Homo sapiens: one gene and its partners. The protein of the gene in region 2 purifies or fractionates together with the protein of the main gene of each other region. This does not show direct contact. Each region holds a gene or a part of one and is shown on either strand. Other genes may lie near its edges.

Region 1 (4,136 bases), on a different chromosome or scaffold from region 2:
AAAAAGAAGACTTTAAGAAGGGGATGGGCGCCTGTAATCCCAGCACTTTGGGAGGCCGAGGTGGGCAGATCACTTGAAGTCAGGAGTTCAAGACCAGTCTGGCCAACATGATGAAATCCCGTCTCCACTAAAAATACAAAAATTAGCCTGGTGTGGTGGCGCACCCCTGTAGTCCCAGCTACTTGGGAGGCTGAGGCAGGAGAATCGCTTGAACCTGGAAGGCAGTGGCAGAAGGAAGATCATGCCACTGCACTCCAGCCTGGGCAACACAGCAAGCCTGTCTCAAAAAAATGAAGGGGATGGGGTGGGTGTGGTGGCTCATGCCTGTAATCCTAATACTTTGGGAGGCCAAGGTGGGAAGATTGTTTGATGCCAGGAGTTCAAGACCAGCCTGGTCAACATAGGGAGACCCCATCTCTAAAAAAGAAGGGGGTGGTCAACGATGTTAAGTGCTGCTGAGAGGATGAGTCTTGGCTCTGCTGATTCCTGACTTGAGTTTCCAGTCAGAAATACACAGAGGTCCTTAGCACTGTCTACTCTAGAGCCTTCTTAGATCTGTGAGATGGAAGTATAAATTACTGTGAGCAGTACTTCTGATGTCACCATGGGCAAAAGAGTCCATATGTGAAGGTCACATGCTTATTTACATCCTTTTCTGTTTTGGGCTATTCTGCAAAATCAAGTCCTGTCTTACCCTCTCTTCATGCCACCCCCAACCAGGCTCTGGCGTTACGACGTATTCTGTACACCCTGGCACAGTCCAATCTGAACTGGTTCGGCACTCATCTTTCATGAGATGGATGTGGTGGCTTTTCTCCTTTTTCATCAAGACTCCTCAGCAGGGAGCCCAGACCAGCCTGCACTGTGCCTTAACAGAAGGTCTTGAGATTCTAAGTGGGAATCATTTCAGGTATGAATGTTATCTCTTTTTGCAGATGAGATTTATTGCTCAAAGGAGATAATTTGGGTTTGTCTGGGTATACCCTTTTTTAAAAGTACATTGTCTCATATAGCTTTTGTCTTTTAACTCTAGAGTTTTTACCTTTTAGTAGGGGAATTTGACTCTCTTTTGTAATAACTGCTACATTTGATTTTATGCCATCTTTTATACTGATAATTATGCATTCTGTTTGTTTTCTTCCTGTCTTTGTTATGTCAGTCCAGTTTTCTTTATTCTTTTTTGGATTCCTAATTCTATTGTTTTACATTAAAAAGAATTTAAAAAGAATTTGAGGCCAGGCGCAGTGGCTTACGCCTGTAATCTCAGCACTTTGGGAGGCCAAGGTGGGCAGATCACCTAAGGTCAGGTGAAACTCCGCCTCAAAAAAAAAAAAAAAGAATTTGAATCTGCATTTCTCTATTGTCCTCAGGATTGAAATACTATGGACTCCCCTCTCAAATAAGCGAAGACATTTAAAATGATTTAAATGTAGAGAATTTTGAATATAACACAGGGTTAGATAAAATAGTGCACTGAGCCTGCATATAATGGAGCCTCAGCTACCATTAACCCATGGCCAATTCTGCCCTATCCCCATTCTCTACCCCTTTCCATATTTTTCTTCTCCCATATTATTTTGAAGCAAATCCCAGGCATCACATAAGATCAAAATTTTAACATGTTTTTACCTCTACTTCAGGTTATTGTTGAAATGACCTGAAATTTTAAGGAAGTAGCTGAAAATAGCATTAAGATTGGAAAGAAAGGCAGACAGATTATGAGAGGCCTATAATGCCAGCCTTGTGGAGGAGCCCCAGAGTTGTTTCAGTAGACAGACAAAATCTGGTCTGTGCTTTAGCAACTTTGTTTCATGAATGAATAATTAACCTAGTGAGAGAGAGAGTTTCAGAAAGTTGTAATGAAAGGAATGGTAATGTGAAAGAGGCCCTGAAGCAGCAGAATTTTTATCACTGGATGATTAATTAAATGAGGGGATGAGGGAGGCTTTGCTAACCTGAATTTCAAGCCTGAATGAGGTTGATGATGACATTAACTAAGACAGCAGACATGGAAAAGTAATGTGTGGAACTTAGGGTTCTTGGATTCCAAAGCAGTTGAAAGGGACTTTGTCTAGCTTAAGCAAGAAGGAAATTTATTAAAATATTAGTAGGGAGAGGAGGGACCCCTAGGTTGAAAGGGAAGACTGAAGAGCCAGGCTAAGAAGTGTCAGAGTGGCAGTCAGCCAGCCGGGGCATTGCTGCTAGAGTGAGCGAATGCCAGCTATCTTTAGTGTTTAGGTTGTATTGCTTATCATCCATTCTCTAGGGAGGAAGCATTGGATCTCCTTCCTCCTATCCCTTCATTTTTACTCTTTTGATTAGAGGCAAACAGGGACTTTATTAATGCTCTCTTCAAACTATATTGAGGGGAAAAGGTGATTCTGCAGAAGGAAATCAGGTTGCTATTGCCGAAACAAAGTAGAATGTTCAGCCAAAGAGTAACAGTTGTCCACTGTGTAACAAACCTGGCTCTGTACATGTTGCATGTGTGTTATCTATAAGGCATGCAAGTAGAAATGTATAGCAGATAGTTGGAAATGTGGTTCTGAAGTATAAGAAGATAGATTTATATAGTATACTGGATTGATTTTCCAAGAGTGACTGGATTCTTCTTCCCTAGAGATTTTAAGAAAAAAAAAAATAACCCTTTATCTTGGTTTTGACTGAGTGGTTTAAAGAAAGTCAGCTCTAAATCCATAACTTACTATTGGATTGACTTTTGAAGAGCCTTTCCTGTGCTATGGATTCTTAATTCATTTTGAAGATCCAACAGCAGCCGTGTAGACCACCATCAAGAAATGAACATAAAAGTCTTTTGATTGAAGCCTTAAGATTTTTGCACTGGCTCTTCTTTCTGCCTGCAACCACTAGTCTGCTTTATGTCTCTAAGAATTTGCCTTTACTGGACATTTCATATAAATGGAATCATATGGTATGTGGCCTTTTGTGACTGACTTCTTTTACTCAGCTTAATGTTATCAAGGGTCATCCATGCTAAAGCATGTGTCAGTACTTCATTTCTTTTTATTGCTGGATAACATTTCATTGTATAGATTTGCCACATCTTATTTATTCATTCATCAGGTGATGGGCATTTGGGTTTGCACTTTTTAGCTATTTGAATAATACTGCTGTGACCATTTGTGTAGAAATTTTTGTGTGGACATTTCTCTTGGGTACATGGAAGTGGAATTTCTGGGTTATATGGTAACTGTGTTTAACTGCTGAGGAACTGCCAAACTTTTCCAAAATGACTGCCCCATTTTACATTCCCACCAGCAGTCTATGAGTATTCTAATTTCTTCACATCCTCAGCAACACTTGTTATTGTCTCTCCTTTTGAGTTTAGCCATCCTAGTGAGTATGAAGGAATATCTTGTTTTTATTTTCATTTCATTTTCCTACTAATGATGTTGAACATTCTTTCATGCGCTTTTTGGTTCATTTGTTTCTTTGTTGGGGAAATGTCTATCAAGTCCTTTGCCCATTTTTAAGTTGGATAATTGTCTTTTTATTGTTGAGTTACAAGAGTTCTTAATAGTCTAGATGCGAGTTCCTTGTCAGATATATAATTTGCAAATATTCTCTCATTCTGTGGGTTGTCTTTTAACTTTCTTAATGGTATCTTTTGAAATGTAAAACTTAAATTTTGATGAAGTCCAGTTTATCTATTTTTTGTCACTTGTGCAGTCATATCTAAGAAATCATTGCCTTACCCAAGGTCACAAAGATTTACTACTGTCTTTAGTAAAGACAGTTTTCTGTTACTAAACAGAATACCACAGACTGGGTAATTTCTAAAGAAATTTACTTAGCTCATGGTTCCGGAGGCTGAGAAGTCTAAGAACATGGTGCCTGGCATTTGGTTAGGGCCTTCTTGCTGTGTCATAATATGGCAGAGGGCATCACATGGTGAGAGGGCAAGCAAGAACAAACCCACTCCCATGATAGTGACATTAATCCAGGTATGAGGGCAAAGCTTTTATTAATTAATCTGTTCATGAAGGCAGAGGGACTAAGTTTCCAACATGTGATTTTTTAAGGGATACATTCAAACTATAGCAACCCCTATGTTTTCTTCTAATAGTCTTATAGTTGTAGCATTACATAGGTCTGTGATCTGTTTTGAACTATTT
Region 2 (4,136 bases):
TATAAGGTTTAGTGGATTTTTACTCCTTTCCGCTGCAAAGGAGTGCAAAAGAGGAATGTCTCTAACACTAGGTAATTATGCTTTTTATGTTTTTTCTCTTGTGTGGCACTCTGCCTGATTTTGTTACAACAAAACATTTATGTTTCTGTATTATGTGTGTGTGTATATGTATTATATATATATGCATTTTCCGTCCCACCCTGCCAAGTCATGATTTCTTATGCACTGAACGTAGGGGCATTAGAGTAGAAGGTTGCCTCAGGTTAGTTTTGTGTGGGGTTGAATGCCTTTTATTTCTGACTTCATTTCTATCTGCCAATGGATCAATGCATTTTACTCTATATTATCAAAATACAATATAGTGTAAGAAGTGGATCCTGGCTAGGTGCAGTGGCTCATGCCTGTAATCCTAGCACTTTGGGAGGCAGGAGGATTCCTTGAGCCCAGGAGTCTGAGACCAGCCTGGGCAACATAGGGAGACTCTGTCTCTGCAAAAAAAAATTTAAAAATTAGCCAGGTGTCATGAGACACACCTGTAGTCCCAGCTACTGAGAGGCTGAGGTGGAAGAATTGCTTGAACCCAGGAGTTTGAAGCTGCAGTGAGCTGTGATCACACCACTACACTCCAGCCTGGACAACAGAATAAGACCCTGTCTCAAAAAAAAAAAAAAAAAGTGGATACTATTGTCAAGGAGCTTATAATACAATTTAGTATGGGCTTTAAAAAAGATATCTAATAACAAAAAGATGACAGTGTAAGACAGTGAAAAAGAGGGGCCAGTTGCTTATATCTGATAACATGATCTTACAAACTCTCTCCATTTAAACCCCAATATGTCTGCATTTCTCCAGCCCTCGTTTCCCAGAGGCTCACTTTGCTCATGGAGGCCTTTGTTGCCACCAGCTCCATCCTACTTTATATTTCCTCATAGCAGCACGTGCCCTGTGCTAGATTTGCTTTTGGTCTGTGCTCACTGGAATGTGAGCTGCATGAAAACCTTTTGTGCGCTGCTGAAGCTCTAGTGCTTGCAAATGTCGGGTACATAGTAGCCACTTAGTAAGTATTAAGTGGATTGAGGACCATGATCATTCATTGACAGTTATTAGGTTTGCCTTCAGCTCTCAGTCCCGTGGGGGTACATGGACACATAAATAGGTCATCCAAGTTTAGTGAGAATTGGTGGGAAGGCAAGAAATGGAAATAAGGAAGGATGGGCACTTGGTCAATATTTACATAGACTTTACCCAAATATTGGGCTTTTTGTAAACATAGAATCTGTTGCTTCTTAAAGCCTAAGCCCGTTGGAAATTGGGGTAATGTGAGCAATTTCTTTCTTTCCATCAAAGAGGTGGTATGGCATGCAAGAAAAAGCAAGATTCAAAACTTTAATAGCATTTGTCTTGATGTCTTGCTTTAGAGGACTCTAAGACAATTAAAAAATACAATAAGAGTAAGAAAAAAAGAAAGAAACAACAGTATTAGAAAAGTGTTTCTTAACCTGTATGTTAAGAAAGAGAAAACTCTCTGACAGAGGCAACCTATCATTTGGGACATGTGTGTGTTTTTGTCTTTTCCTTGGGAGCTATTCAGAGGAATGGAGATTAGAATAAAGTATCTCCCCTCTCCCTATCCCATTTTATCCTAATCAAATCTAAATTTGCTTTTCAGGTTAAAGATTAAGTAACAGCTCCACCCCCTTGCTGTTGTGACAACTCAAAATTACTCCAGGCATTGCCAAATGATCCCCGGGGAGGTGGGGTGGGGGTAGGAGAAGCAAAGTCATCTCTAGTTGAGAACTACTGGTCTACAGGAAGTTTTTTTGTAAATGATTGCTAACATGCATCAATTTAAGTTTTGAATGTATAAAATTATTATCTTGGCTTCATTAAATTTTTAAAATTATTTGACATACCAGGATAGTATTTGCTTCTAATACATGGATTTTTTCATGAAGATGTTAACAGACTTTGGGAAGAACTAGGAGTAGAAGTATTTCTGTAGGGTCAAATCTATGAGGCCTGGAATTTGGTTTCCTATAGGGATTCCCAGAGATAAGTTATGATGGAACATGGTTGTCCTCCTTAATGTTAATTTCAGAAGTCAGGGATGGAGCCTAAAATCTCATAATAAGGTCCACTGTAGATTTTTTAAGACATTAATTTGCCTAATTCACTTAAAAGTTTCTGTTAAATCACATTTCACGGTAATGAACTCCAAAATTCCCTATATTCTCCGGAGTTTGTGTGAAGAAATAAGTAGCTTTTTCCCCCTTTCAAAACTCATCTGTATTAAAATGTTAACGTAACTACTTACTTAGGCATTTAAGTTTATTTCTGACATCACTGTTTATGCAGTGCCAGAATTTGCTGTTACTACTCCTCTTTCCAATCGCTCTGCTGTTTTATGACTTTCGAATTATGACTTTATGAAATCTCATAGGTTTTAGGATATTAGACATGAAAGAAAACTTGGAGATCATATGGTCCATTCCCATCATTTTACAAATTGGAAAACTGGCTTTTTCTTGATGCTCAAGGTATACTAATGTTTGTGAACTGTACTGTAATTGATTTCTGGTTCAATAGCAAACTACTTTATGCCTCTGCAATCAAGATAGGCAAATTCCAGGCCCCAGGAGAAACCTGACACACAGGAGAACACGTTTTTGTCTCAAAAAGCCATCTTGGGTCTGGAAACTGCATTTTGTTTCTAGAATGAAAAAGAGAATGTGCGGTTCATTAATATCATGCCTTTTCAAGTTTACTTAATAATTGGGCAAGAATATTTTCCATTGTGCTGGGATGAACGTTTTAACATCTGAGCAGTATTCAATCTAAGAGTAATTACTGACTTTGAAAGTCTCATAATGTAGCCAGGAAGTGCCCTTTTGATAAGGAAGCAACTTCCTGAGTACAATAGACTAGAAACGAAAAATATTCCATCAAAACATTTTCTCTTTTCATTTAAGGGAGATCGGATGTGGCACTTTGCGGTGTCTGTGTTTCTGGTAGAGCTCTATGGAAACAGCCTCCTTTTGACAGCAGTCTACGGGCTGGTGGTGGCAGGGTCTGTTCTGGTCCTGGGAGCCATCATCGGTGACTGGGTGGACAAGAATGCTAGACTTAAAGGTGAGTGTTGTTATATAATTAAGCCCTTTTATTCATGGGACCAATGCCTGAGCTACCTCTGTAGCAAAGGAAACAACAAACTAGGAGAGAAACAACCAGGGAATGTCTGCATGCCACACTTGAGGGAGGAGGGCTTAGATGGCACCACCTCTGGATGGAGGGTCCCATGGCTCCCACACAAAGTTGGGATGCCTGGACATTGACCTAATAGATTTTTTTGTATCTTTGGCTGTTCATAAATTTCATATGTTAATGATTAACCTTGTAGCACTTCTCTGAGAACCATGTTAAACATTAAAAGTTTGCTTAACTCAGGCTTCCTAACTGTATCTTGTACTGGAGTCCCTTTAGTGTGATGTTCCTGAGACAGCTTTAACATCTGTTCTTTGGTTACTATGTTTCATGTAAGAGTATGTATAAGGGAATTGAAAACTAAGAATAGCTTCAAGGCAGAATAGTTGAGCCTGGATCACAAAGAGCTGAATTATAAATTTTGTAGGGAAAAAGAAGAAATAATAATATCTTGATATTTATTCTAAGCATTAGTACTGAAATCATGTCATTTTATACAGGAAAGAAAGTAATTGATCAATTAAATTTTCCAGTATATAAGGGAAATATGGATGATCATTCAGGGTAAATTTTCTTGAATTGCTCAGTTGATAATGCCAAGACCTGACCATGCCTGACTTAGATGTTGGCAAAAGACTGAGGTTTCATTCTTTCAGTGCGAGATGACTGCTTCTGGACACAGAGCAACAGGCTTATCAAATTCTAGGACTTGATGCTACTAGGAAAATGGTCAAGGTGAACATATTTCTGTTTTTAGAATGAGTAGACCAGAACACATATAGAGAAAAGTTCTGTAATCTAGAAAAAAATTTACTTCTTTGCATCATTATACATAGGAACATAGGAATATTATACATAGAAACTTTTAATCTAATGATTGTTGAGCACTGCAATCATAGATTAGGAAAGAATATTGAATTGGATGAAGAAAAGTG
Region 3 (4,136 bases), about 170 Mb from region 2:
CTCTAAATAAATAAATAAATGAAGGACAGTTGTATAAGTTATGTGTCTAACTTATTTTGTTGTTAAGCACTTTGGGAGGCCAGAGTGCATGGATTGCTTGAGCCCAGGTATTGGAGAGCAGCCTGGGCAACATGGCAAGACCCCATCTCATAAAAAGAAAATAAAACTATACATCACTGTGGTAGGATGAACCACTCAAAGAATATGTCCACTAATATTTTTAAATGAAGTCACAGGAATAAACTGTAAAAGTCAAAACCAACTAATCATTTATTTCACGTCTTATGAAATGTAATTTCTGAAATTACAGGGGAAACTATTTCTTGCTTTTGATTATTGTGTAACTTTTACTTTTCTCATTACAAAAGGAATAAATGATCAATTTTTTAAAAGTATAATAGGGCCGGGTGTGGTGGCTCACGCCTGTAATCCCAGAACTTTGGAAGGCCAAGGCGGGTGGATCACTTGAGGTCAGGAGTTCGAGACCAGCCTGGCCAACATGGTGAAACCCCATCTCTACTATAAATACAAAAATTAGCTGGGTGTGGTGGTGCACACCTGTAATCCCAACTACCTGGGTGGCTGAGGCAGAGAATCGCTTGAACCCAGGAGGCGGAGGTTGCAGTGAGCCAAGATCGCGCCACTGCACTCCGGCCTGGGTGACAAAGCAAAGCTCTATCTAAAAATAAATAAATAAAATAAAAATATAACAGAAATATATAATGCAGACAGTAAAGCCCCCAAAATTCTATCCTCCAGAGATAACTACTGACAACAGCTTGGTTGGATGACATAATTATAAACTAAAAAACTGAGGAATTGAAAGGGCAACAAAACTTTTTTTTTTTTTTTTTGAGACAGAGTCTTGCTCTGTTTCCCAGGCTGGCGTGCAGTGGCACGATCACAGCTCACTGCAGCCTCAACCTCCTCAGCTTAGGTGATCCTCACACCTCAGCCTCCCAAGTAGCTGGGAAAACAGGTGGGTGCCATCACGGCTGGCTAATTTTTGTATTTTTCGGTAGAGACAGGGTTTTGCCATGCTGCCCAGGCTGGTCTCGAACTCCTGGACTCAAGTGATCTACCCATCTCGGCCTCCCAAAGTTCTGGGGTTACAGGTTTAAGCCACTGTGCCTGGCCAAACATGGTTGTTTTAACCTTAGTTTTTAAAAATATAAAATTTTACATTTATAAGTGTTTTAAAAACAGAAAGATATATTATTGTTTGCAAGTAAAATAGCCTATTTAAAGAAAATTTTAAAAATAATATATTTTTATATTAGATTTTTTTTGGATTAGATAAATGTACAGAAAAAATATGGAAATATTTACATCTAACATCTAATAAAATATTTAGCTATATCTGTGATTTTCTCTAAAGGTTGGATTATGGAAAATTTTTACTTTCTGTAATGGTAAAATTTTTTTCCTCAACAAGTATATATTACTTTTGTAATTAGGAAAAAAAAATACTATGCAGCTGTGGAAAAAAAGATGAAAAAAGAGCTCTGTGTGCTGATATAAAGAGCTCTCTAGGACATACTATTAAATGGAAAATGAAAAGGTGTGTATATCACCTTCCCTTTTGTGTAACAAAAGGGGAAATAAAAATACATAACTAAAGTCTGCTAGTATCTGCATAAAGAAATAAAAATAAAAATGGTTACCTAAAGGAGGAAAGGAGAACAGGCTGAAGAAACATAGGGTAGGAATAAGAGTTCTTGGTATACAGTTTTTATTAAAATACAGTTTTGCTTTTTAAACCAAATAAATGAATTACCTATTAAAAAAAGACAGAAGAAAAAGAAAACAAACTCTTTAAAAAGTCATAGTAGGAAAGAAATCCAAACCAGTTATCACATTTATAAATAAAATAATTTTAAAAAAATCAAAACTATGGCTGGGTGCAGTGGCTCACACCTGTAATCCCAGCGCTTTGGGAGGCTGAAGCAGGAGGACTGCTTGAGCCCAGGACTTCCAAACAAGCCTGGGCAACATAGCAAGACCTTGTCTCTATAGTTAAAAAAAAATTTTTTTTAATTAAAAAAAAATTAGGCCGGGCGCAGTGGCTTACACGTGTAATCTCAGCACTCTGGGAGGCCAAGGCGGGCAGATCACAAGGTCAGGAGATTGAGCTCATCCTGGCCAACACGGTGAAACCCCGCCTCTACTAAGAATACAAAAATTAGCCAGGTGTGGTGGCACGTGCCTGTAATCCCAGCTACTTGGGAGGCTGAGGCAGGAGAATTGCTAGAACCTGGGAGTTGGAGGTTGCAGCGAGCTGAGATCGCGCCACTGCACTCCAGCCTGGTGACAGAGACTCCGTCTCAAAAATAAATAAATAAATAAATAAATAAATAAATAAATAAATAAAATAAAATGCTCCTCACAGCAAAGCTGTGACTTAAAAAAAAAAATTAAAACTCTACTACTGAAAACTCCATGTAGTTAATGTGGCAAAAATCCTCTTTAAAAAAATGTAGGGTTGGGGCCACATGCAGTGGCACACACCTGTAATCCCAGCACTTTGGGAGGCTGAGGCAAGACTATCACTTGAGCCCAGGAGGTCATGATCAGCCTAGGCAACATAGCAAGATCCTGTCTCTGCTAAAAAAAAAAAAAATTAGCCAAGTGTGGTGGCATGTGCTTGTAGTCTCAGCTGCTCAGGAGGCTGAAGCAGGAGGGTCACTGATCAGATTGGTGACATACGAGGAAAAGGACAGCCTTATACATAGCTGGCGGGCGTGTGATGATGCACTGTTAAGTAAAAATCTTTGAGAGGCAATCTGGTAACTCAATTAAAAGTAGAAACACATATACTCTTCAAATTTGCATTTCTACTTCTGGGAACCAATCCAACAGAAATAAAGGTACTAATATGAATGGATACATATAAGAGTACTACTGCAGCATCATTTGGAGTAGCTAAAAACTAAAAACAAAGTGAATGTCAATCAACAAGGGAATGGCTAAATAAAGAGCATACTCTCAGTATGAAGTAAAGAGTGCACCATATCACCCTATTTTTGTAAAAACAATGACAAACCATTCCCACATACCTATATATCTATGTACACAAAGACCTGTGTTAGATCATGTGACCATGGAGAAAGTCACGAAAGGATCCATGTTAAGCTGCTGGTTACAGCGGATTAAGGGGAAGATGGGGCAAGGCCATATTTTATATAGGAGGAAAGTGTCCATGATAAAAACATGTATAATATGATCCCACTTATATAATGTTTGGACATGCATGCATAAAGAAATGCATCAAAACATTTTAAATGAACATAACCTTTTCCTTTTTCTTTGAGACGGAGTCTCGCCCTGTTGCCCAGGCTGGAGTGCAGTGGCACAGTCTCGGCTCACTGAAACCTGTGCCTCCCGGGCTCAAGTGATACTCCTGCTTTCCCAAGTAGCTGGGATTACAGGCGCCCATCACCATGCCCAGCTAATTTTTATATTTTTGTTAGAGACAGGGTTTCACCACATTGGCCAGGCTGGTCTCGAACTCCTGACCTCAGGTGATCCACTTGCCTCGGCCTCCCAAAGTGCTAGGATTACAGGCGTGAGCCATGGAGCCCAGCAACATAACCTTTTTTATAACTGGAGGAGTATCTCTATTATATAAGGAAAAGGTTGTCACAATGAAATAACATGATTTTTTTTCTAAATATAAATTGCCCGAATTAGTGCAGACATTTATTTTTCCACGTCATGCACCTGATAAAATCATGATGCAGACTGATATGTGCGCCTATCTGGTTGGCAGGCTAAAAACCAACCAACCTGCAAAGGTGTACCAACTTGCCTGTAACATAACATGCCCAGCTTAGTGAAGCTCAGTTAGAGCACCATCTTCCTCATCAATACGTTTCTTGCAGTACTCACCGGCTGCAGGAGCTTTTATGTATAGTGGTAGTTCCTCAAAGGAGAATTTACCTGGTAAATGATGTGAACATAAGGAAGATCTTGAGAGAGTGGATACACTGAAGAGGATTTCTTCCCATTATGCAGACGGTTTGTAAGTTCAGAAAGACACCGTTGCATTTCAACCAGGTTCCTAGATAAAATTTCCACTTCCTTAGACAGCTGATAAGTTTCCTTTTCACTTTGTAAGTTCTTTCTTTGAGGCAAAC
Region 4 (4,136 bases), on a different chromosome or scaffold from region 2:
TGGGAGAAAAGAGATAAATCTCCCATGCAGAAGAATTCTTAAAAAAATTATGTAGATACTCCACCTCCAAGGAGGAAGAACATAAGTAACCCCCAACCTTAAGTGTGGGCTGCACAGAGTGACTTCCTTTCAAAGAGTACAGTATGAAAATAGGAGGAAGAGTAACTTTTCAGTAGAGAAACCAGACAAACACTACTTCAACTAGATGGTCAAGGTCAACATCAACAGTCATAAGTCATGTGATTTGATGTGATGAAAATGGCAGTTTACCTCTGCGATGTTCCTCCAAAAACCCATAACCCCAAGTCCAATTATGAGGAAAACAGCAGACAAATCCTAACTTAGTGACATCCTGCAATATACCTGACCAATACCCTCACCAAACTGTCAAGGACATCAAAAATAAGGTCTAAGAAATTGTCACAGCAAAAAGGAGCCTAAGAACATATAACAATTAAATGCAATGTGGTATTCTGACGGGATCCTGGAGCAGGAAAAGGACATTAGGTAAAAACTAAGGAAATATGAATAAATTACACACTTTCATTATAGTAAAATGTCAATATGGGTTCATTAATTATATCAAGGTACCATACGAATACAAGATGTTAATAACAGGGGAAATGGTATGCAGGGCGTGAGTGATATGAGAACTCTCATACTATTTTTGCAATGTTTCTGTAAATCTAAAACTGTCCTTAAAAAAAGTCTATTAATGTCTTTAAAAGCCACTGTTGGCCAGGCATGGTAGTTCATCCCTGTAATGCCAGCACATTGAGAGGCCCGGGCACAAGGATCTCTTGAGGCCAGAAGTTGGAGACGAGCCTGGGCAACACAAGGCCCCATCTCTACAAAAATGTAAAAATTCGCCAGGCATGGTGGCATGCAACCGAGGTCCTAGCTACTCAGGAGGCTGAGGCAGGGGGATCACTTGAGCCCTGGAGTTTGAGGTTACAGTGAGCTATGATTGTGCCATGCTCTCCAGCCTGGGCAACAGAGGGAGACCCTGTCTCCTATGTAGACCCTTTATATAGATATATAAAGCCTAGAAGAACAGTGGCTATATATATACGGCCACTGTCAGTTGGCCGTATATATAGCCACTGTCACTGTTATTCCTCTGTCAGTTGCAGAGGAAGTGAATCCTAATTAATATGCCTCTCACTCCCAAAATTACTACGGACAAAACATTCAAAGTCTTATGTACAATTATGGAGGGCCCATGCTGGGCTGAATTATGTCCTCCTAAAATTCTTATGTCCTCCCAGAATTCCCAGTATCTCTGAATGTGACTGTATTTAGAGATAGGTTCTTTAAAGAGGTAATTAAGTTAAAAATGGGGTTATTAGGATGGGCTCTGATCCAATATGATTGGTATCCTTATAAGAAGAGGAAATTAGGACACAGATATAGGCACAAAGGAAAGACCATGTGAAGACACAGGGAGAAGATGGCCAGAGAAGAGAGGCCTCAGAAGAAACCAATCCTGCTGATGTCTTCATCTCAGACTTCTAGCCTTCCAAAAGTGTGAAAAATAAACATCTGTTGTTTAAAGGCATCCAGTCAATGGTATTTTGTTATGGCAGCCTTAGCAAACTAATACAGCCACCAAGCTCATCCATGTATTATCAGACCATTTTATAATACAGGAAAGTGGAGCTCAAAGAGGTGTGTGGGTTTTGTTGTTGCTAACCCCAACACCATGGGAACTGTAGGGCACTGCCCCGAGACACTCACCCACAACTTCAAGCTGGACTGTTCCCTGTGCCTTCAGAGGGGTGACCACCACCTCACATCGGTACTCTCCTGCTTCCTCCAGCTGGATTCCAGGCAGCCGCAGTGAGGCGTCCCCACTCTTCAGCCTCCATGGAGACACAATGGCTCCAGGTCGGAATGCCTCTTGGTGATCTCCAAAAAATTCAAAGACTTTGACTTCTTTGTCAAACGTCAGACTCTTCCAAAACCAGGTGATACCCATAGACGTGATGTTGAGGGGTTGGGAATAAAAGATATTGCAGAATATGGTGACATTGTCATTCAGGGGTGTGATCTGAGTCCCCCCTGCCATCATCTCTACTTTCAGATCACCTGTGGCAATAAGAGGACACAATGTTCAGTTTACCAATGTATGAACATCTTTTTGAGATGTGCTATGGACTGAATGCTTGAGTCCTCCAAAATTCATATGGAGGCCTGACCCCCAGTGTGATGGTATCTGGAGGCAGGGCCTTTGGGAAGCGATTAGGTCATAAGAGGAAAGTCCTCACGAATGGGATTAGTGCCCTTACAAGAAAAGACATGAGGCCAGGCACGGTGGCTCATGCCTGTAATCCCAGCACTTTGGGAGGCCCAGGCAGGCAGGTCATGAGGTCAGGAGATTGAGACCATCCTGGCTAACATGGTGAAGCCCCATCTCTACTAAAAATACAAAAAATTAGCCAGGCGTGGTGGTGCACACCTGTAATCCCAGCTACTCGGGAGGCTAAGGCAGGAGAATTGCTTGAACCCAGGAGGCAGGGGTTGCAGTGAGCTGAGATCATGCCACTGCACTCCAGCCTGGGTGACAGAGCGACACTCTGTCTCAAAAAAAAAAAAAAAAAAAGAAAGAAAGAAAAGAAAAGAAAAAGACAAGACATGAAGCTGGGCCTGGTGGTTCACACCTATAATCCCAGCACTCCCAGAGTCTGAGGCCAGAGGATCGTTTGAGCCCAGGTGTTCCAGACCAGACTAGGCAATATAATGGGACCTTGTCTCTACAAAAAAATAAAAATAAATTAGCCCAGCATGGTGGTTAGCACTTGTAGTCCCAGCTACTTGGGAGGCTGAGGTGAGAGGATCCCTTGTGCCCAGAAGTTCAAGGCTGCAGTCAGCCGTGATAATGCCATTGCACTCTAGCCCGAGTGACAGAGTGAGACTCTGTCTCAAAAACAAACAAATAAATAAATAAATAAGAAAAGACATGACAGAGAGATATGTCTCTCTCCACCACGTAAAGATACAGCAAGAAGGTATCCTTCTATAAACTAGAAATGAGGCTCTCACCAGAAACCAGATCATCCACACTTTCCTCTTGGACTTCCCAGCCTCCAGAATCATGAGAAATAAATTTCTGTTTAAGCCACACAGTATATATCTGTTATGGTAGCCTGGCAAGACTAAGACAGGACATTTTTCCATTTCATTTATTTAGATTTTAAATTTCTTTCAGCAATATTTTACAGTTTCCAGAGTATATATTTTCTGTTTCTTTCGTTAAATTTACTCATAAGTATTTTATCTTTTGATGCTATTGTAAAGAGAATTTTCTCTTTTTTTTTTGATGTTTTCCTATTTATTTATTTAGAGACAGGGTCTCGCTGTGTCACCCAAGCTGGAGTGCAGTGGTGCTATCACTGCTCACTGCAGCCTCCACCTCCTGGGCTCAAGTGATCCTCCTGTCTCAGCCTCCCAAGTAGTTGGGACTACAGGCACATGCCACCATGCTCAGCTAATTTTTTCATTTTTTGTAGAGATGGAGTCTTACTAAGTTGCCCAGACTGGTCTCTAACTCCTGGGCTCAAGCAATCCTCTCATTGCCTCCTCAAGTATTGGGATTACAGGTATGAGCCACTGCGACTGGCTAGATGTTTTCCATTTTAGAACAGTAGGTTGCTAGCAAGTTTACGCTTATACCTATTCCAACAAAAAGTGCAAGGACAGTTCAAAATATTACATTTGCTATTTCAAAGAAGAGTACAACTCCAAAGAAGTCAGACTCATTACTAACAATGCAGAGCTAGACATCTATATTTAGATAAATGTCAGAAACCGAATTCCCCTTGTTGCCATCAAACATGTCCTTTCATTAGTCACATCCAACATATCTAAATAAAGTTTTCAAAATTAATGTTAACAAAAATGTATCCAAAAACCTGCCAACTTACTCAAAGATTTGTGCAAGTCTATTTTTTAAAATAATACATTAGGGAAACGCGGTGACAAGCTTTCTGTTCTATGTATCAAAGCAAAAACAGACTTGACCTACAAAATGAAGATAGGGTCAACTGTAACCAAAAAAACAGTATGCTTCCCCCTGGTGGCCAACCAAGAAATGGAGAAACCAAGGATATGAAACAGCCAGGCCACCTAGTTGTATT
Region 5 (4,136 bases), 6.6 Mb from region 2:
AAGTGAAATCAATTATTTCTGATTTGTACCTGTGTGGTTTTTTTGTTTTAATTATTGGTCTTAACAATGTGTTAGGTAGAAACCTCTGTGTCATACTTGATTCCTGCTTCTCTCACACATCTAAGTTACTGAATCCTTTCAATTTTATCTCAGAAGTCTGTCTCAGATCTGCCCATTAAAATTTTTTTATTACACTTGCCTATTTCATATCCCTTTTTCATGCCTTGTCTGAACTATTTCTAGCAGCTCTGTTACAATTTTCCTTTTTCAGTGTTTTCTTCTGCCAATATCAGAGTTATCCTTAGAAAATTACCTCTTCATGGCCAGGCATGGTGGCTCACGCTTGTAATCCCAGCACTTTGGGAGGCCGAGGCAGGTGGATCTCCTGAGGTCAGGAGTTCGAGACCAGCCTGGCCAACATGGCGAAACCCCATCTCTACTAAAAATATACAAATAAAATTAGCTGGGTGTGGTGGCAGTCGACTGTAGTCCCAGCAGCTCAGGAGGCTGAGGCAGGAGAACCCAGGAGGCAGAGGTTGCAGTGAGCTGAGATTGTGCCATTGCATTCCAGCCTGGGCAACAAGAGTGAAACTCCTTCTCAAAAGAAAAGAAAAGAAAAGAAAATGTCTCCTCATGCTGTGGCTATTTTAAAAAATTGTCGCTGTCTTTTTGCCTGCAGTTTACAATCCAACCTCTAGCTTGGCATTCAAGGCCCTTCCTAATAGTTGAAACCTCTGTACTTTACCTTACACGTTATGCTCCACCACATAGTAGTTCTAACTACAGCTCTGAACCATCATATCTTTACACAGTTTTTTTCCAAAGGCCATTTAATCCTTCCAGTGAAATATTCTTTTTCATTCCTTGCTTGCCTGGTATGTTTTTACTTGTCTTTTTAATAGTAATTTAAATAAGCGTCTATGAATTTACTCTATGACGTGTTTCTTCACACAAGATTTACCCAAGATCTACCCGTTTCTGTTTTCACCAAGCTATGTGCATTACCCAAGCTAGCTAAGTAAGCTCTGTATCTCACTTATATTTCTGTCTTTTAATATTGTTGTGATATTTGCAACACAGCCTGGATTCAGCTACTGTTTGCTTGAATAGTTAGTATGCTTTCAGAGTAATTGGTGTAATGTAAGATTTCATTCTTTTCTAAATTTAGTTGCTACCCAAGCATTGTGCCAAAACTATCAGTCAAGCAGTGAATAAGAAATCAAAAAAGCAGACTGGTAAGAAAGGGGAACCTGAAAGGGAGAAACCAGGTGTTGAGAGCATGAGGAAAAACAGGCTGGTTGTGACCAAGTAAGTATCCACTTATATTATACCTTTTTGCTCCAGGTAAAATATTTATTTCATTTTTTTCTATTGACATTAGTACTGAGGAAATGCTAATAATTGTATATTCTTCATTTTCCAGCCATTTTAAAAAATATTTCTGAGCTTAATTAACCTGTTAGTTGCTTATTTCATCTCAAAATACAGATTTTGGCCTTTAGAAGAAAATATATGTAATAGTTGATATTTGTCTTTTTATACTAAGTACTGAAGGCCAATTATATGTTTAAAAAATTTTGTGTGTTACATTATAAGCAATCTGTAATTTTTAATTTATTTAAAGTTAGATAGTGGAGACTTTATTTTGGCATGTTTTTGATATATTAGAACATACCCAATGTCATTATTATAAAACAGAAATAACAGACCAGGTAGCATTCAGGGATCTTTGCTTGCTTCATTGTTTGGAGGGGAGGTGTAGGTGGGTAATAATTCGGTAAATATTTTTTGTTTAAAGTATAGTTCCTACTTTCTTGCTAAATTGAGCAAGCCATTGCCCTTTTATAGACAACTTTCCTTCTCTCATAACAGAAAGTACTTCAGGAATTGGGCGTGATTATCTTTATGAGTGCAGAATAAGCTCTACCTTTGTATATTAAGTCAGTATATTCATTACTACCTAAAGGTAGAAACAAATGACGCCATCTTTAGAATATTGCTCTTATGTGTTAGTTATAACCTTAAAGATTTTGAACTTTCTCAGTTTAGGAGAATAAAAAGTCGAATTCTCTAAGCATTATCTCCAAATAAGGTTGATATATTTATAAAATTAATTTTGTATTGCCTGTGATGACATGTGAACATTTTAACTGTTTATTAATTTTTTTCAGCCTTGATAAATTGCACACTGCACTTTCTGAGTTATGCTTCTCTATAAATTATGTACCAAACATGGTGGTATGGGAACATACCTTTACCCCACGAGAATATTTGACTTCTCATCTGGAAATACGCTTTACCAAGTAAGAAAGAATATTGACTGTTTTTGTTTGTTGACTCAGTAATGAGTTTGTTATTTAATTATACAGTGTTTTATAAGGAAAAGCATTAGTAGAACTGGATTAGTGTTAAGAATAATGAACCGGGCCGGGCGTGGTGGCTCACGCCTATAATCCCAGCACTTTGGGAGGCCGAGGTGGGCAGATCACGAGGTCAGGAGATCGAGACCATCCTGGCTAACACAGTGAAACCCCGTCTCTACTAAAAATACAAAAAATTAGCTGGGCGTGGTGGTGGGCACCTGTAGTCCCAGCTACTCGGGAGGCTGAGGCAAGATAATGGCGTGAACCCGGGAGACACACTTGCAGTGAGCCAAGATCATGCCACTGCACTCCAGCCTGGGTGACAGAACAAGACTCTGTCTCAAGAATAATGAACTGGGAAATGCAAAGAATAGTGAACTGAAAATTACTGAAGATACCCAGATTCTTTTCTCATACCTATTAGTATTAACTAGTAACACCAGGCAAACCAGTTAATATCTCTGAGTCATAGCTTCCTTATATACAAAGTGAGAATATTGGAGCAAATCAATGTATTTCATCTTGCAGGTGGCAACCCAGTAGGTTCATGAAATCAGTTTATTAGGTTGTAGTCAAAGTTTAGAGAAAAGTGGGAGGGAAAGAAAGGACAAGAGGAAGAAAAAATAGGAAAAAAAACCCAGTACACTGTGTGCATTAAATATATATATTGCTTCGTGAAATGTTTCAGTTACATGTATGCATGTGTATTGACTTGCAGTGTTAAGATGCGTGTCATGCAGTAGGTCACAGTAAAATGTTTGAAGACCTGAGGACTAGATGAACCCTTACATGTTTTCTGAATTCACATGTTGCTGTTAAATAAGCCAATAGAATTCTAGATTCTTGAATTCTCAATTCTAATTAGAATTTCCTGTTATATATGAATATATATTTTATGTATGTATATGAAATAGTGCATTGATAAGTCAGAAACCTTTCAACTTTATATATATTGTTTTAACCTTTTTCTGAAGTTACATCCTTATTTATTAATATTTATTCATGAAAATTTTTATTTATTTGACAATTTTTTTCTTCAAAGCCTTGAAGCAATTTATAAAACAAAATTTTGCCAAAAGGTTTTCAAAGTTTCTGTAGTCATTAACAGGTGGTGTTTGTATTTGCACTATATGCTTAACAATGTGTTAAGTACTCTAGGTAATAATGAGATAAAGATAGAACTGTAGCTGGTGAGATGACTAAAAGAATTAGAGAACAGAATATGACAGTATATAAAGTGGCACTAAGTTGAGTGTTAAATTATCAGTTGACTTGAGAAGAGTCTGGTGATGAACTGTCTTTTGTTCTCCTTAGTAAGTCAGGCATCCTGACAGTAAAACCCAGAATGCCCTAGAACTTAGACCAAAGGGGCATTGTGCCTTGTGGTGTTTATTATTCTCAAGTGGGTTAGAGGTGGGACATTGGTGGGTGGAAGGGAGAGTTCAGTGTACAGCTCCCTTGTTTTCCTTGTAAACAGTCTGCTTTGTTAATCCACAGAGAAGCAGTTTTTTTTTTAACCAAACATCTACTTAGTGATTAGGATCAAGGCAAGGGGAACAGCTTGTTTACCTTGGAAAGATTTTTTATTTTATTTAATTTATTTATTTATTTATTTTGAGACGGAGTTTTGTTCTTTCGTCCAGGCTGGAGTGCAGTGGCACAATCTCAGCTCACTGCAACCTCCATCTCCCAAGTTCAAGCAATTCTCCTGCCTCAGCCTCCCGAGTAGCTGGGACTACAGGCGTGTGCCACTGTGCCTGGTTAATTTTTGTA
Region 6 (4,136 bases), on a different chromosome or scaffold from region 2:
AATATGTTAATGTTGCCTAAGTGATACATCTCTTCATCTGTATGCATGTGATTAATATAACCTGACCACCTTACGCAGGGGGCTGAAACCATTGCAACAATGATTAATCATTTCTGAATAATATATGCCCCACTAGAAATCGTTTCCTCCCACGATTAATCATTTCAGATATGAAGTTTTCAGGTGGGGCAACACATTTTGCCCCAGTTTCCATTCATATTCTGCATTATAGATCAAGCAAATAGAAAATCAGCATAAAAGTTTACATTGATCCAGCAGCCTTAGTTTAAATTGTTTAATATCTAGAACTAACTGTAAAACTCTTAATGCAGTCACTTAAAAAAAAAAAAAAGATCAAAGACGTGTATTAGTAAAACCCTGAGGTAAAGAAATTAGCCCAATTTTTATATTAAATTGTTAGTAGAACTTGGAGTTTCTAAGTGAATTATTTTCTCTTTCAAGGGTGCTTACATTTTAATATGGTAATAGAAGAATGTAATTTTAAAGACTTCACCTTATTATTCTCTTTTGATATTTAGCATAATGAGACATGGTATTGTAGTGGTTGGTCACTTTTTAGGCTAGACAAAATGTATTTCCAAGTTGTAAATGAACATGGAATGCAAAGGGATGGTGTTAATTAACTTGGAAGGTACATACTTACTATTTGCTTTCAGATGACGGTTTTTATGTAGCTCTTTCTTCACATTTTGCTTTTTCAACTTCCATTTATGCGTATTTATCTGTTCCTTTCAATATAAAAATTGATCAGAGGTTAATTGATAAGACTGTAGTGATTAAGAGTATGGATTTTATGCATTCAACCTTAAACTTGCAAAGTATGATAGGGTTTTGCTTGTTTCTGGCTTGGTTGTGTTTTTTAATATTACATGAGTTTTCCTCCTCTCTTTGATTGTAAATAAATGGTCCCAGTTGAAGCAGGCAATGTGCTAAGGTTATAGCCCTTGTATTGTCAGTGGAAGTATGGCCAAATAAGTGAGAAATTCTTCATTTTTTTTTAGACGGAGTCTCGCTCTGTCACCCAGGCTGGAGTGCAGTGGCACAATCTCAGCTCACTGCAACCTCCGCCTCCCGGGTTCAAGCGATTCTTGTGCCTGAGCCTCCCAAGTAGCTGGGACTACAGGTGTGTGTCACAACACCCAGCTAATTTTTTTGTATTTTTAGTAGAGATGAGGTTTCACCGTGCTAGACAGGATGGTCTCAATCTCCTGACCTTGTGATCCACCTGTCTCGGCCTCCCAAAGTCCTGGGATTACAGGCGTGAGCCACCATGCCTGGCCATTTTTTTTTATGGTAAATTCAATGTGTCACCTACAGAGCTGCCAAGAGATGGATTTTACGTTATATTTGGGAGGTTTGTTTTTTCTTTGCCACCTTGTTAACTCTCGTGTAATATTTATGAGAAAGAATACTGTCCAGATGGAGATGGTACCTGCAGATGTTAATCTGGGGGACTCAGATCAGCTCTAATTTGTTTCAGTTCATAGATTGTTACATTTGTTCTGTGCATTCCATGAAGTTTCTTACCCTTAGAGTTATTTCTGTCTTAGTAACAGCAACAAGTGGGAATGGAGACTTTGGTGACTGGAGTGCCTTCAACCAAGCCCCATCAGGCCCTGTTGCTTCCAGTGGCGAGTTCTTTGGCAGTGCCTCACAGCCAGCGGTAGAACTTGTTAGTGGCTCACAATCAGCTCTAGGCCCACCTCCTGCTGCCTCAAATTCTTCAGACCTGTTTGATCTTATGGGCTCGTCCCAGGCAACCATGACATCTTCCCAGAGTATGAATTTCTCTATGATGAGCACTAACACTGTGGGACTTGGTTTGCCTATGTCAAGATCACAGGTAAGTTGTCTGGTTCCCTTGGAATTTGTTATTTATAATCTTTGAGATGCTCTAACTCATTGAATGATAGATTAGTATAAAACAGAAAAATAAGCAAGTCCTTTTTATGTGTATGAATATGTGTCTGTGTGTGTATATATACGCATTTGCACATTTCATTTACCTCATACTCTCCCCTAGCATAGTCATTTGCATTCTGGAAGGCAAGACCTTCTCCCCCATCTTGTAGTCACTGTAAAGCCAAGCATGGTGCCTTTGCACAGAGGAGGAACATGGCAAAAATTTATTGTTACAACAAATTGGTACTTGATAGTTTTTTTAAATTGTCTTTAAGAAAAAGAAATAGGCCAGGCGCAGTGGCTCACCCCTGTAATCCCAGCACTTTCGGAGGCTGAGGTGGGTGGATCACTTGGTCAGGAGATCAAGACCATCCTGGCTAACACGGTGAAACCCAGTCTCTACTAAAAATACAAAAAATTAGCCAGGCATGGTGGCAGGCACCTGTAGTCCCTGCTACTTGGGAGGCTGAGTCAGGAGAATGGCGTGAACCCAGGAGGTGGAGCTTGCAGTGAGCTGAGATCGCGCCACTGCACTCCAGCCTGGGCGACAGAGTGATACTCCGTCTCAAAAAAAAGGAAAAGAAAAAGAAATAGAGATATTGTTTCACTTACGGCAAGTATCCACTTAGTAAAATTTCTGGTCATGTCCCTAAAGAAATATCACTCATTGGTTGTAAATAATTATTGCTAATATGGAAAATCATTCTCTCGAATGGTGAATGTTCTTCCCAATTCTGGACCTGCTCTACATTATATAAATGTTTTATAGGCTCATCTTTCAACTTTCATTTTCATAAAGAAAAACAACCAAAATGGGAGCTTCTTAATTCACTATTTTATAGTTAAATCCGAATTACCTAGTACTAGCTTAGAATTCAGACAAGTGCAGGCTTGGAAAATATGTGTCTGAATGGTACCAGGAACTTGCTATTTTTGACTCAAACTATTGAGAATATGTGTTTATGATGCTAATTACTCATTTTAATGTGTAGATTCTCGTCTTTGGGGTATTAGGATGAAGGAAAAGAAGAAAGAAGCAGAAAGGTGACTGCTCTATGTAACAGAAATAAGACCTAATGTATGAGTTAAGCATAAAGTCAGTCTACTTTATTTGCAGTCTTAATTGTAACTGTCATAATTCTTTGCATTGGTACATTTTTAATTATTCTTCCTCTTCCTGTTCCTTTTTTCTGTCCTTTTCAGTTATCCTCAATAACCACTAGGAACCTCTGCTTCTTTCTCCTGAATTTCTTCTTTCTCCTACATTGTTCCATATATTAATCAGTTCAGTTAGTGTTGCTCACTTTAGATAGTAAAAGTATACACAGAACAGCAAAATGTCAGGATATGTGAAATATAAATTGCTTTTTGACAGTTTTGCCTTATATCCTTGTATAATGTGAGACATCATATCCTGAATTCTCTGTTTTGTTTTGTTGTTTTGAAACAGAGTCTCGCTCTGTCGCCCAGGCTGGAGTGCAGTGGCACGATCTCTGCTCACTGCAGCCTCCACCTCCTTGGTTCAAAGTGATTCTCCTGCCTTAGCCTCCCAAGTAGCTGGGACTACAGGCATGTGCCACCATGCCTGGCTGATTTTGTATTTTTAGTAGAGATGGGGTTTCATCCTGTTGGCCAGTCTGGTCTTGAACTTCTGACCTCAGGTGATCTGCCCACCTCAGCCTCCCAAAGTGCTGGGATTACAGGCATAAGTCACTGCGCCTGGCCTCTGAATTCTGTTTTGAAAGAATAAATGTCCACTTGTGTATCTCCTTAAAGCTGTACTAACCTAAAATCGGTAGTTCCCCTGGGCATTTGCCAGGGATGGTGGCTTCTAGACTTTGAGTGATGGGAGAATAATTGTTAGTGTAGGTAAGTTGTTGGTTTTATCCACCTCAAACCTGATTGGGACTTCAGAGGAACCTCTTTGGGAAGCTAATGATTCAGGGTATTGAAGACATTAGCATAGAACATTAGTGGTTCTTTTTGTTTCAGAAGTTCATTGTTGTGATTAAATTGCCATCTGATAATTTTTATAGAACAGATGCTTAATTTTTAGAGCATTTTTCTATTTTCCAGCCTTTGCAAAATGTTAGCACAGTGCTGCAGAAGCCTAATCCTCTCTATAATCAGAATACAGATATGGTCCAGAAATCAGTCAGCAAAACCTTGCCCTCTACTTGGTCTGACCCCAGTGTAAACATCAGCCTAGACAA
Region 7 (4,136 bases), on a different chromosome or scaffold from region 2:
TTCAAAATTCAGAAGGTATAATAGGGCATTTAGTAAAGTTTCTACTATCCCTCTGCATCAGTTTTCCTCCTGAGACAACCATGTTCTTGTGTATTCAGAAAAATTCATGCACATACAGTAATGCTTTTGTAGTCCTCTCAAAAAATGACAAATGAAGAAGAATGCTGGGAAACTTTGTTGTTGATTCTTATTCCTTCAGATCAGTGCAGTGCGTTTACCACGTGAACCCAGCAATCCAGAGAGGTTGAAAGGTTTTGGTTATGCTGAATTTGAGGACCTGGATTCCCTGCTCAGTGCCCTGAGTCTCAATGAAGAGGTAAAGAAAATAAGAGTGGGGATATGAGGGGTGTAAGTTCACAAATCTCATGTTTATTGATCAAACTGGTATTTTTTAGGTTGAGAGGCTCACTTCAAAGATTCCCATATCTACAAATAAAGGCCTGCATTATTTAACAGTGTATCACTTAACATCGAACATCTAGCAAGTCACACTTCAGCAAATTCAGTAGGCCCCAATAATTTAGATAGGTACTTAGGTGGAAAGTTGTGGAAGAAACCCACCACACACCAGGTCTCTAATTAAGTCTTACACTGATTTACCCACAGTGTTGCCTCAACTCTTATGGCATTGCTTTTTCAAAGTAATCTGGCCTGATAAAGGCAAATAGAAAAATCAAGTTTGTTTAGTATTAAAGGCATATCTCATTTTCAGGGAAGTGTTGTAATGGTATATTTGTTCATTTAAGAGGATTTGGAAACATTTCCTACAAAGGAATATTTTACAGGAGAGTGACAATAAATATCTAGTCCTTCTGCTTGTCAACACTGCCCACAAAGGTTTTCCTGTCCCAGGACTTGAGGGGCTTATATCTCAGAAGAAAAAAGACTTTTTTCCTCCTTTAACTCCAAAAACACCTTATTGTTTATTGATAAGGCAATTTCTAGTGCCATTTGTGCCATATTTCTGTAGTCCTATTTTGCCATATGACATGATTGAAATCAACACCTCTTAGAAATAGTTTTGCTGCCTCATAATTGATTACCATCATGATAACCTGTAGTCAGTGTGAAATAGAGATAAAAATTAATGTACTTAGTTAAATGCATATGAAGGTCTAATCTTGTTCCAGAGTTACTCTTACTGGATTATTTTTAGATTTTTATTAACATTACTGGTCTCTAACTTTACTCAGTCTGGATAAGAAAAAGAATACCATGCAATTGTTAACTATTTGATGTTTACTAGATTAACTATTAATATATTGTTGTGGTCCATAGTTAAGAGTTACTTTGTTACTAGAGATTTCATTATAGTGGTGTTTAATATAGTTTTGGGTATTTTTAACTAAAAATCATTGTTATCCTTCAACTGTAGATTCTACTATGAAATGAGGAAAAATCAGCAATAGAATTAATTGGGTTCAAAGTATATAAATAATGATGTGGGAAAGGGAAGTCAGAGGGTATCTCTGGAAGAACTGATTTATCTGAAGGTAATACTGAGTGAAAGAACCTAAGATTGTAGACAAAGCATGCTTTATGCAATTTTGCTGGTACATAGTAGTAGTAGAGGCTCTATAAATGTGTTGGGTGTTTTTGTTTTTAAGAGACAGTGTCTCGCTATATTGCCCAGGCTGGATTTGAACTCCTGGGCTTAAGTGATCCTCCAGCCTCAGCCTCCCAAATAGCTGAGACTGTAGGTACATGCCACTGCACCTGGCTTCTATAAATTTTGATAAATAATTGTTGTGGCACCAAATATGCCTTTTATTCAGCTAGTTATGTGAGAATTATTTTTAATTTACTACACTTGACAAATTACCTTGGATAGTTAAAAAGTTAATTCTATTCTGTGAAATTAAGCTTTGTAAAAATAGTATAATTGACCTAATATTCAAGGCCAGCTTAAATTTGTTTAACTTTTAAGTCTTTTAAAGGACTCTTTAGCCCACAAATTGGAGTGTTAGCTAGATTACAGTGTTTTCCTTTATCTTCCTTCCCCTAGTGCTTCTGCTATGCCCAGACGTTCAAGGTCACTCAAGGGATTTGTGCATAATGGGGCAAAAGGTTGGTTAATATGGTCCTATGCTCTCAGTCTCTAGGTAACAGGAGAATTCGAGTGGACGTTGCTGATCAAGCACAGGATAAAGGTAAGGAAACTGGTAGAGATTTCTGTTTGGTAATGGTCCCAGGATGACACCAAGCCATCCTTTCCCAGAAAATTTGAATAGGGGTAGTGGTGGGCCTGCCTGAATCTACAGTAACAGTTTTCAATCAGTTTTGCCCCACAGGGGACTTCTGGCAATGTTTGAAGACATTGTAGTTGTCACAATTGGAGGGAGTGCTGCTGACATAAGTAGAATCCAGGGGTTAATTCTATAGGGAATAGGACAGTCCCCATCAACAAAGAATTATGCAGCCCAAAATGCATGTCAAGATTGAGAAGACTGATTGATCTAGATGAACATTAAATAGATGATAAATAGATTAGCTGCCTAACAGCACGTTGGTCACAAAGGGGACCTAATTTGTATATGTTTCAGGGACTCCTGGCCCATACAGAATTTGAGATAGCTAAGCATTAAACCAATAGGAAAAAACGGGAGGAAAAGAGCCACCTGGGGTTGAATTGGAGCATGTACTTATGGGGCCTGAGGTAACTGGGATGACAGTGTGACGTGAAAGTGAAAAATAGGGTAAAATGGGGGTTTTCTATGTGTGAGAAATATTGGGCAAAGTTTTTATGAGATAACTTACGGTTTTTGTTTTAATGTATCTGTAGACAGGGATGATCGTTCTTTTGGCCGTGATAGAAATCGGGATTCTGACAAAACAGATACAGACTGGAGGGCTCGTCCTGCTACAGACAGCTTTGATGACTACCCACCTAGAAGAGGTGATGATAGCTTTGGAGACAGTAAGTTTGTTTTTATGAAGTTAGCTTCCTCTGTGCTTTGGGAGGCTATTTAGTAATAGGACAAATGTGTTACAGATGATCAGATCACATTAACAGATAGAAGGAGGAAAGCAGATTAAGAAAAATTTTGGATAGTATCTGAAAGAACTGATAGATGCAGGAAACGAATTTGATAAATTAATAATTTTTTTTGAAAACTTAACCAAACAAAGGGACAGACATTTCTCTTTTTTTGGAGACAATTGTTTATAAAGAAACCCAAACTGGGCATGGTGGCTATAATCCCAACGCTTTGGGAGGTCAAGGCAGGTGGATTGCTTAAGGCCAGGAGTTTGAGAGCAGCCTGGGCGACAAAACAAGACCCTGTCTACCAAAAAGAAAAAGAAAAAGCTGACGTGGTGGTACGCACCTGCAGTCCTAGCTGTTCAGCAAGCTGAGGCAAGAGGACTCCTTGAGCCCAGGAGGTCTAGACTGGGTGACAGAGCGAGACCCTGTCTCAAAAAAAAAAATCCAACAGATTCTACAAAGTGAGCTATTTGAAATAAGAGTTCAGCATGATTGCTGAGTGAAGAGCAGCATACAAAGATCAGTTGCATTACTTTTTGATATATATATATATTTTTGAGACGGAGTCTCGCTGTGTCGCCCAGGCTGGAGTGCAGTGGCGTGACCTTGGCTCACTGCAACCTCCACCTCCTGGATTCAAGTGATTCTCCTGCCTCAGCCTCCCAAGTAGCTGGGACTACAGGCGCGCGCCACCACACCCAGCTAATTTTTGTATTTTTAGTAGAGATGGGGTTTCACCATGTTGGCCAGGATAGTCTTGATCTCTTGACCTCATGATCCGCCCGCCTTGGCCTCCCAAAGTGCTGGGATTACAGGCGTGAGCCACTGCGCCTGGCCCATCAGTTGCATTACTATATGCTTGTAGCAAACAATTAAAATGTAAAATTTTTTTTTTTTTTTTTTTTTTGAGACAGAGTTTCGCTCTTGTTGCCCAGGCCGGAGTGCAATGGCATGATCTCAGGTCACCTCAACCTCCGCCTCCTAGGTTCAAGCGATTCTCCTGCCTCAGCCTCCCGAGTAGCTGGGATTACAGGCATGTGCCACCATGCCTGGCTAATTTTGTATTCTTAGTAGAGATGGGGTTTCTCCATGTTGGTCAGGCTGGTCTCGAACTCCTGACCTCAGGTGATCCTCCTGCTTCAGCCTCCCAAAG

The links.
Region 1: the proteins of SLC40A1 (region 2) and RDH11 purify together in Homo sapiens (affinity purification with mass spectrometry; one large-scale study listed by BioGRID and IntAct). This does not show direct contact.
Region 3: the proteins of SLC40A1 (region 2) and WDCP purify together in Homo sapiens (affinity purification with mass spectrometry; one large-scale study listed by BioGRID and IntAct). This does not show direct contact.
Region 4: the proteins of SLC40A1 (region 2) and NCR3LG1 purify together in Homo sapiens (affinity purification with mass spectrometry; one large-scale study listed by BioGRID and IntAct). This does not show direct contact.
Region 5: the proteins of SLC40A1 (region 2) and NCKAP1 purify together in Homo sapiens (affinity purification with mass spectrometry; one large-scale study listed by BioGRID and IntAct). This does not show direct contact.
Region 6: the proteins of SLC40A1 (region 2) and CLINT1 purify together in Homo sapiens (affinity purification with mass spectrometry; one large-scale study listed by BioGRID and IntAct). This does not show direct contact.
Region 7: the proteins of SLC40A1 (region 2) and EIF4B purify together in Homo sapiens (affinity purification with mass spectrometry; one large-scale study listed by BioGRID and IntAct). This does not show direct contact.

Annotation. Positions count from the first base shown.
Region 1 is NC_000014.9:67,681,789-67,685,924, reverse strand, and holds part of RDH11 (retinol dehydrogenase 11), read left to right. Parts: intron 1-720; coding exon 721-910; intron 911-4,136. UniProt on the Homo sapiens protein: Retinol dehydrogenase with a clear preference for NADP. Displays high activity towards 9-cis, 11-cis and all-trans-retinol, and to a lesser extent on 13-cis-retinol.
Region 2 is NC_000002.12:189,574,154-189,578,289, reverse strand, and holds part of SLC40A1 (ferroportin), read left to right. Parts: exon of another isoform or gene 1-71; intron 72-2,969; coding exon 2,970-3,129; intron 3,130-4,136. UniProt on the Homo sapiens protein: Transports Fe(2+) from the inside of a cell to the outside of the cell, playing a key role for maintaining systemic iron homeostasis.
Region 3 is NC_000002.12:24,033,738-24,037,873, forward strand, and holds part of WDCP (WD repeat and coiled-coil-containing protein), read right to left. Parts: coding exon 3,940-4,136; intron 1-3,939.
Region 4 is NC_000011.10:17,354,603-17,358,738, reverse strand, and holds part of NCR3LG1 (natural cytotoxicity triggering receptor 3 ligand 1 precursor), read right to left. Parts: intron 2,089-4,136; coding exon 1,738-2,088; intron 1-1,737. UniProt on the Homo sapiens protein: Triggers NCR3-dependent natural killer cell activation.
Region 5 is NC_000002.12:182,954,629-182,958,764, reverse strand, and holds part of NCKAP1 (nck-associated protein 1), read left to right. Parts: intron 1-1,168; coding exon 1,169-1,308; intron 1,309-2,171; coding exon 2,172-2,303; intron 2,304-4,136. UniProt on the Homo sapiens protein: Part of the WAVE complex that regulates lamellipodia formation. The WAVE complex regulates actin filament reorganization via its interaction with the Arp2/3 complex. Actin remodeling activity is regulated by RAC1.
Region 6 is NC_000005.10:157,789,431-157,793,566, reverse strand, and holds part of CLINT1 (clathrin interactor 1), read left to right. Parts: intron 1-1,571; coding exon 1,572-1,864; intron 1,865-2,915; coding exon of another isoform or gene 2,916-2,942; exon of another isoform or gene 2,943-2,967; intron 2,968-3,126; exon of another isoform or gene 3,127-3,999; coding exon of another isoform or gene 4,000-4,053; coding exon 4,054-4,136. UniProt on the Homo sapiens protein: Binds to membranes enriched in phosphatidylinositol 4,5-bisphosphate (PtdIns(4,5)P2). May have a role in transport via clathrin-coated vesicles from the trans-Golgi network to endosomes. Stimulates clathrin assembly.
Region 7 is NC_000012.12:53,019,711-53,023,846, forward strand, and holds part of EIF4B (eukaryotic translation initiation factor 4B), read left to right. Parts: intron 1-199; coding exon 200-316; intron 317-2,095; coding exon 2,096-2,150; intron 2,151-2,782; coding exon 2,783-2,917; intron 2,918-4,136. UniProt on the Homo sapiens protein: Required for the binding of mRNA to ribosomes. Functions in close association with EIF4-F and EIF4-A. Binds near the 5'-terminal cap of mRNA in presence of EIF-4F and ATP.